Linked DNA regions of Homo sapiens. The protein of the gene in region 1 interacts with the protein of each later gene in a biochemical or structural test. Each region holds a gene or a part of one and is shown on either strand. Other genes may lie near its edges.

Region 1 (3,500 bases):
CCCGCTGATTTTTTGTATTTTAGTAGAGATGGGGTTTCACCGTGTTGCCTAGGCTGGTCTCGAACTCCTGAGCTCAGGCAATCCACCTACCTCGGCCTCCCAAGGTGCTAGGATTATAGGTGTGAGCCACCACACCCGGCCAATAATCTCTTAATTGGCTTGGCTATTTGAGAGTGTTAAAAAGTTCATGATTTCACATTTCTTCACTATGAAAAAGAATAAAGATGATTGGATTAAAATTATATGTAAAGACAGAGCATGGAGATATCAATGCTTAAAATATATTTTTATAGTAGAATAAACTAACTATACTAGAATATACTAAATGATTTAATGCTCTGATTTAGTGTGCCAGTTTTGCATTCCAGCTCATAAATTTACACACCCATGCCCTATTTTTAAATAACAGTGAAAGATGTTATCGCAGTCACCTAAATCATTAAAAGAAAAAAAGTTTGAACAAAGTCTAAGGAAAGATACCTAAAACATGTCTGAAAAGAGGAGGACAGTTTTTCACCTAGGTATCTATTTTCTAGAAGTAATTTCTAAGTTGTTTCTTCTATCAATACTATTTTCATTACTTGAAACACTTTTTTTGGGGAGGATTATTTTTTAAATTACAGGTGTTAATATCCCAATACCAAATGTTTTGAAAACTAAAGGGCAAAAAAAAGGAAATCCTAAAACAGTCATTGTCATCATCATAGATTTTATTTGATAAAGAATTTGAGGTAATGAACATCATACTAGCATTATGTGATGTGATGTGATGTGATGTGATAAGTTTATTTACATTTTTGTCTTTTGAAAAGTGAGGCAATAGAGTTCCGTTTTACAAACATAGCAACTCAGAGAACTATTCCTTAGTGTGTAATTCTGGCCCCCAAATGGAACATTAGTTGTTTTTGTTTTTTAATAATCAATGTAATCTGAAACATATATAGAGAGACATAGATTAAAATCAAATTTGATAAATGTTTGAGCTGCTGAATTTTTTTGATTTGTAGAATTTTATGTTAAACTGTTTATGTCAGTCTAGAAAACTTTAGGATACTTAACCCAGCCCTCTATGGACGGAGCATCAAATGGAAGAAGGAGGTCTGAGTTTTTTTTGTTTTTAGACAGGGTCTCACTTTGTCACCCAGGCTGGAATGCGGTGGCACAATCTCGGTTTTCTGTGACCTCTGCCTCTGAGGCTCAAGTGACCCTCCCACCTCAGCCTCCTGAGTAGCTGGGACTACAGGCCTGCATCACCACACCTGGCTAATTTTTGTATTTTCAGTAGAGATGGGTTTTCACCATGTTGGCCAGGCTAGTCTCGAACTCCTGACCTCAGGTGATCCACCCGCCTCAGCCTCCCAAAGTGCTGGGATTACAGGCGTGAACCACCTCACGCAGCCAAAGGTCTGGTTTTTATTCCTGGCTGTGTGGCTTACTAGCTTCGTACAATGAGGCTAGTACATATTTTCCATACATTTCCATACAATGGATATGTATGGATATCCATACATATGAGGCTGCTGATCTCAAAAACCAGGGTGTTTGTAATCGTTACTCTGCCTTCTAAGTACTTGACATATATTAATTGACTTAATTCTTAGTATACCCAAGAGGTAGAAACAGTGTTATTTCCATTTTACAGATGATGATACTAAGGCAGGGAAATATTGAGTAGTTTACTCATGATCACATTATCTAGTAAGTGACAATGCTACGATTCCAAAACAAACAGTTGGCTTCAATTCCACATTCCTTTTTTTTTTTTTCAGTCTTAGAATCTTTTATTTAATACCTTCTCATGCCCAGTTAACACAAAAATAGTTGCAGTTACATATCGCTACTGAAAGCTACCAAACTGCCTATCTGAAGAGAGAGTCAAGGATCCTTCTCTTCCACTTCTTAGGAGAGAATGATAGTTTTTGGATGTTGAAGAGAGCATTCACTGAGATTACTGAACTCACCAGATATACTATAAAGCTTTCTGTCTAATGTAGCCAGTAGCCACATGGAAACAAATTGGGTATGAAAATTTAGTTTTCAACCTTGAGCTTTATGAAATCTAAATATAGATCAAATATTGCTGACGAAAATTTAGTATCCAAATTGAGATGTGCTGAAGTGTAAAATATGTACTGGAATTTGAAGACCTAGTATACAAATCTAAATAATTGTTACTAATGAGATATTTATAAACATTTTTATATTGATTAAATTTTGAAATGATGACATTTTGGATAAGCCACCTAGTCAGGCTAAGACTCATTTTCTTTCTCTGTAAAATGAAGGAGTAAACGATATCAGAGTACTACTTGCCTTATTCTGTCTTTACATTCAGGTTCTAGAAACCAGACCATGGGCAGAGCATTTTCCTCCTTGTTCAGCAGAGCAAATTTGTGGGCTTTTAAAGATGGTAACATTGTTTCTTAAATCACTTTCCATAATTTAATATCAGTAATCTGTTTATAGAAGAGAACAGCCACATTCCCTGACAAAGTTTTGTATGACTTTACTTTTTATTTTGCTTTTAAGCTTGGCTGTAATATTATTACTGAACCTGTGACACTTCACTTAAAATGTCAAATCCTTTAGTGGAGAGAGTGTTATTTCCTTGTCTTAATCTTTTTATATGCCAATGATTGTGCCCCCTAGGATAGCAAATAAAATCTGTCAATAAACTGACTGAACAATGCTATCCAATAGAAATACAATGTGAGCTACATTTTAATTTTAAATTTCCTAGTAGCCACGTTTTTAAAACGGGAAGTAGAAGCAAGCAAAATTAAATTTAATGTGTCTTATGTAATTCCATATTCTTAACCACTTCAGTACATAGCTTCTCTTATCCACATGAACTCGTATCTATTGTACTTAAACTGGAAGACATAGAGTCAAATGGGTTTATGGGATATAAGTGCTTTGCAAACTGGAATGTTCTATACAAATGTAAAGTGGTGTTATAATTAAGACCTTGGCATATTTGATCATTTTCACTGACACATTGCTCAAATGTGTTGATTGTGCTTCGCAAATCTCTGCTCCAAAGTAACACATGCTGAGATCGTTTAACATTGTAAATCAGTAATATAACTTTGATCATCTTTGTTTCATCACTTTGAATTTCTCTCCTCCAAAAGGATTTTGAAACATTGGTTGTAGTTCATAAATGCTCTGTCAAAAGTATCATTGCATTGTGAAGTTTTTATTTGAGATAACTTTTTGAATTGACAGAGTCATTTAGTTCCTGTAGTGGTTTTGAGTAGTAAACTGTTCATATTATGAGATTAAATCCAAGACTCCAGTTCTTTCTAGAAAGAATGATACAACTTAAAGAAGCACGGTATTTATGCATTTTGGGATAAATGGTTTTCCTTGAGATGAGAGCGAGATAGTGTTCTTTCTCTAATAAGCCACGATGTAAATTTTTTTTTAAATCTTTGTAATTAAGCTCAGTCTTTCTTTTGTCCTTGATACTGTATTTTTCTTTCTTCATCGCAATAGAG
Region 2 (4,217 bases), on another chromosome or scaffold:
GATTCTGAAGAATACTGAGTTCCTTTTTTGAGAAAGGATAAAGATAATTTCTTACAGGTGAGACTTAAATGAGGTAATATAAGCAAAATAAATCTATAAATCAGAGTCATAATGTCAAATGCCTTCAAGGGCCAAGGAGACGTGAGGTAGCAGAGCGGTGGGGAACATAGCCACCCTCTCTAAAGGCATCTACATTATCATTATTTTCTAAATCATCATGCCAGTCAAACAAAACCTGTCAAAAGTTAAATTCTGCTTCTAGGGGCCAGCAGTTTAGGAGTGTAAGTAAAACAATTTACAGATGTTAGACTGTTTTAATTTAACCCTAAAACAAACAAAAAGAAAGGTCTGGAGGTATAACATTTCTGAAAGTCTTTGGTTTACAGCAGTTGCTATAAGGGGAGCCACATAATTTATAGTCCAAACTGGACATTTCTGAAAGTGAAAGGAGGTGCTATTAATAATTACACCAGGACAAAGTGAAACCCAGGATGGTTCCAGGCAAAGCAGAGTGTATGATCACTCTGGCTATTATTATAATAATCATCCACAAGCCCTGTTTGACCTAAGATTAAGATCAGACAAAAATTAATGGTGTACTTCTTGCTGGGGACAGACGGCTGATAATGGAGAGTGAGGAGGTGAGGGTGGAAGCTATACCAAGAGAAGGGGTAGGGAGGAAGCACCCTTTTCCTTAAGACAAGAGGCAAGGAGGGAAGGTTAGGACATGAATGTACAGAAGGGAATGTATGTAACACTGGTTGATATATTCCTAGTCATAACAAAAGCCATAGAAGGCAAGTCAGGGATCAGAGAAGCACCAAGAAGGAAGAAGAAGAACATATAGACAGAATTGGCAAAGCAAAGAATGGGCACGGAGACACCAGCATACTGGAGACATACAGAGAAAAAATCAACAGAGGACAGACTACTACAGGTGTTGTGGGGAGACAGAAGATCACCAGGGGCAAGAGCAAAGTGCAAAAACAAAGAACAACTCTTTAGAAAGGAAGTTCCTTGCCTATCCTACTGAGCTAGGGAGTGGTTGGTTGACCCTGTGACTGGAAATTCCCCAAGGTAGGTGATGATAACCTCCACATTTTCACAAAATTCTGTGAGGAGCCAAAGCACCTGAGGTAGAGAATTGCCCTTCCCCTACTTTCCAGATGCTCTACCAAGGCTTGAACTTTGCATACAAGATGCCCAAAGCATTGCAGTGAACTGGCTGTGACCTTTCAGTAGGCATCACCACCCACCCCTCCACTCCCTACTCAGAGCTGATTGGGAAATCCCCCATAAGTGGTGTTTGGTGCCCCGGTCATTCTGATCTTAGTCAACCACCATACAAACATACCTTTAGTCCAAAGTTCAGGACAACTTATTTCACTTTATAAGCAGCCTATTACACATTCAAAGTATCCATTTGTTCTCAAGAGGTAGCAAGGTAGGACTGCCCATCTGTTTTCCTCTCTTTATAATATTTTCTAGATCCTAAATTTTACGCTTTTCTATCATTTCTTTATTTTTTTCTCCCTCTTCTTTTCCTCTCTCTCTGCTCTTCTAACTAATTGGCAGAATCTCTGACCTCCACTTTCTCTGACTCCCTTCTCCCTTCCTAGAAACAGTATCCACAGTGGACTCCGGGGCTCCTACAGACTTGGCACAGCTTCCTACAGTCTTGAAACAGCCCTGTTGTTCTGTCATGGCCAGTGGGCAGTTTGTGAACAAACTGCAAGAGGAAGTGATCTGCCCCATCTGCCTGGACATTCTGCAGAAACCTGTCACCATCGACTGTGGGCACAATTTCTGCCTCAAATGCATCACTCAGATTGGGGAAACATCATGTGGATTTTTCAAATGTCCCCTCTGCAAAACTTCCGTAAGGAAGAACGCAATCAGGTTCAACTCGCTGTTGCGGAATCTGGTGGAGAAAATCCAAGCTCTACAAGCCTCTGAGGTGCAGTCCAAAAGGAAAGAGGCTACATGCCCGAGGCACCAGGAGATGTTCCACTATTTCTGCGAGGATGATGGGAAGTTCCTCTGTTTTGTGTGTCGTGAATCCAAGGACCACAAATCCCATAATGTCAGCTTGATCGAAGAAGCTGCCCAGAATTATCAGGTAGGCATTTGAGGTTTCTTCCCTGTTCCCCCATCAGCCCAGGAGTTCAGTGAGGCCCTGGAAACTGCTACCTTCCCACTGAGGGTTTGCACCCCATTGCCCCCACCCCTTGGGCTTGAGTGGGCAGCTCGCAGTCAGGCACAGTGGGTTCAAAGAGCTGAGTCTGGGGAACTGCTGACTCTCTAAATCAAGGTGCAATGGAGAATGGAAAGGATGTGAAAATTTGACTCAGAAGGTTTGGGCTCAAGCCCAGTCTTGTGAGTTTACTGTACAACCTGCAAGGAATCACTTTACCTCTCTGAGCCTCAGGTACCTCACCTTTCAAATGGCAAAAACAAAACAACTCTCTTAAAGTTGTTGGTAGGACAGATGAAGGGAAGTTTGTAGTTCTTTGATAATTCCAAAGCACCATCCATAGTCCTAGTTAGTCATAAATAACTATGTTCTGGTCATTTAGGTCACTTAGGCTCCAGATTTCTCCCTTCTCAGCAACCCCTTTCCCCGCCAGCTTGAGAAAGGCGAGTCCTTAATAATTACACAAGGACTCACCTGGAGAGTGTCACCAGCTCTCCTAAGAGACCAGGAGGATTTTATGAGGCCAGAAATCTCCAGGCACAGCCTGTCCAAACGGCCCTCTTTCCGCAGGGGCAGATTCAAGAGCAGATCCAAGTCTTGCAGCAAAAGGAGAAGGAGACAGTACAAGTGAAGGCACAAGGTGTACACAGGGTCGATGTCTTCACGGTAAGAAAAACTCCATCCCACGATCTCTGGAAGCAGAAACATCTCTGCCAAAGCTCCTGGAATCCCCTATTACACTGACCCCTCAGAAAAAGATCCAGTGAGCCATGTCCTCTCCTCGGCGCCTCAGCACCTGACCGGCCAGGCGGCATCACCTCCCGCGTCGGCCTCGCTATTACAGCGGGCTGACTGCTCAGTCTCCACCGGCAGACAAGGTGGGGCACGGAAAACCCGCGCTGGTCTTAGAATCGCAAGTACAGGTTTTTAAGGCCGAGCTGCGCCCTCAACGGATTCCCCAATTAGAAAATGAAGACATTGGCCGGGCGCGGTGGCTCACGCCAGTAATCACAGCACTCTGGGAGGCTGAGGATCGCTTGAGCCCAGGAGTTTGAGACCAGCCTGGGCAACATAGCGAGACTCTCCTCTTAATTAAAAAAAAAAAGAAAGAAAACTAGCCGGGCGTGGTAGCACACGCCTGTAGTCCCAGCTACTAGAGAGGCTGGGAGGTGAAAGTATTGTTTGAGCCTGGGAGGATGAGGCTGCAGTGAGCCGTGATCGTGCACTGCACTCCAGCCTGAGTGACAGAGTGAGAGACTGTCTCAAAAAAAAAAAAAAAAAAAGACAGAAGGAAAATGAAGACATTGTGACCCCACTTACCTATTTTCCTGTGTGCGTGAAAGGAATAAAATCTATATGAAAGATTATAAACTGAAAAGCCTTCTGGAATTGTATTAGACAGTTCCTTGAAGGCAAGTGGTAAACCATAAATTAATAATTTCGCTTAAAGCTGAGCACGTAGTAGGTGCTTTTAGAAGTTTGTTCTCCTCTCCTTTCCTTTCTTCCAGGTCTGCCCTGGCACATTGCTCTGGTTGGGAATTCCACACAAACTTAATAAAATTAATGGCTGAATAAAGTGGGCTAGAAGGACCTTCGAGGCCATCCTCTCACCCTCTGCCTGTCCCTGTTTCTTAGGACCAGGTAGAACATGAGAAGCAAAGGATCCTCACAGAATTTGAACTCCTGCATCAAGTCCTAGAGGAGGAGAAGAATTTCCTGCTATCACGGATTTACTGGCTGGGTCATGAGGGAACGGAAGCGGGGAAACACTATGTTGCCTCCACTGAGCCACAGTTGAACGATCTCAAGAAGCTCGTTGATTCCCTGAAGACCAAGCAGAACATGCCACCCAGGCAGCTGCTGGAGGTGAGTCCCTTGGGGGCAGAATTGCAGAGAGGTAGCAGCCCATCCCTAGTCTCAGGTCAGAGCATGGACCACTGGCAGAATACCTGAGATTGCCCCAACCATCCTACCTCTAGCCCAGTGCTGTCCAATAGCAATATGTGAGCCGCATGTATTAGAA

What was found. Proteins that work in one complex are often made in the same cells at the same time.
Region 2: the proteins of UBE2D1 (region 1) and TRIM31 form a complex in vitro, tested with the Homo sapiens proteins (4 studies listed by BioGRID).

The regions. Positions count from the first base shown.
Region 1 is NC_000010.11:58,338,006-58,341,505, forward strand, and holds part of UBE2D1 (ubiquitin-conjugating enzyme E2 D1), read left to right. Parts: intron 1-3,500.
Region 2 is NC_000006.12:30,110,291-30,114,507, reverse strand, and holds the start of TRIM31 (E3 ubiquitin-protein ligase TRIM31), read left to right. Parts: upstream 1-1,417; 5' UTR 1,418-1,444; intron 1,445-1,619; 5' UTR 1,620-1,702; coding exon 1,703-2,119; intron 2,120-2,668; exon of another isoform or gene 2,669-2,764; coding exon 2,765-2,860; intron 2,861-3,829; coding exon 3,830-4,060; intron 4,061-4,217.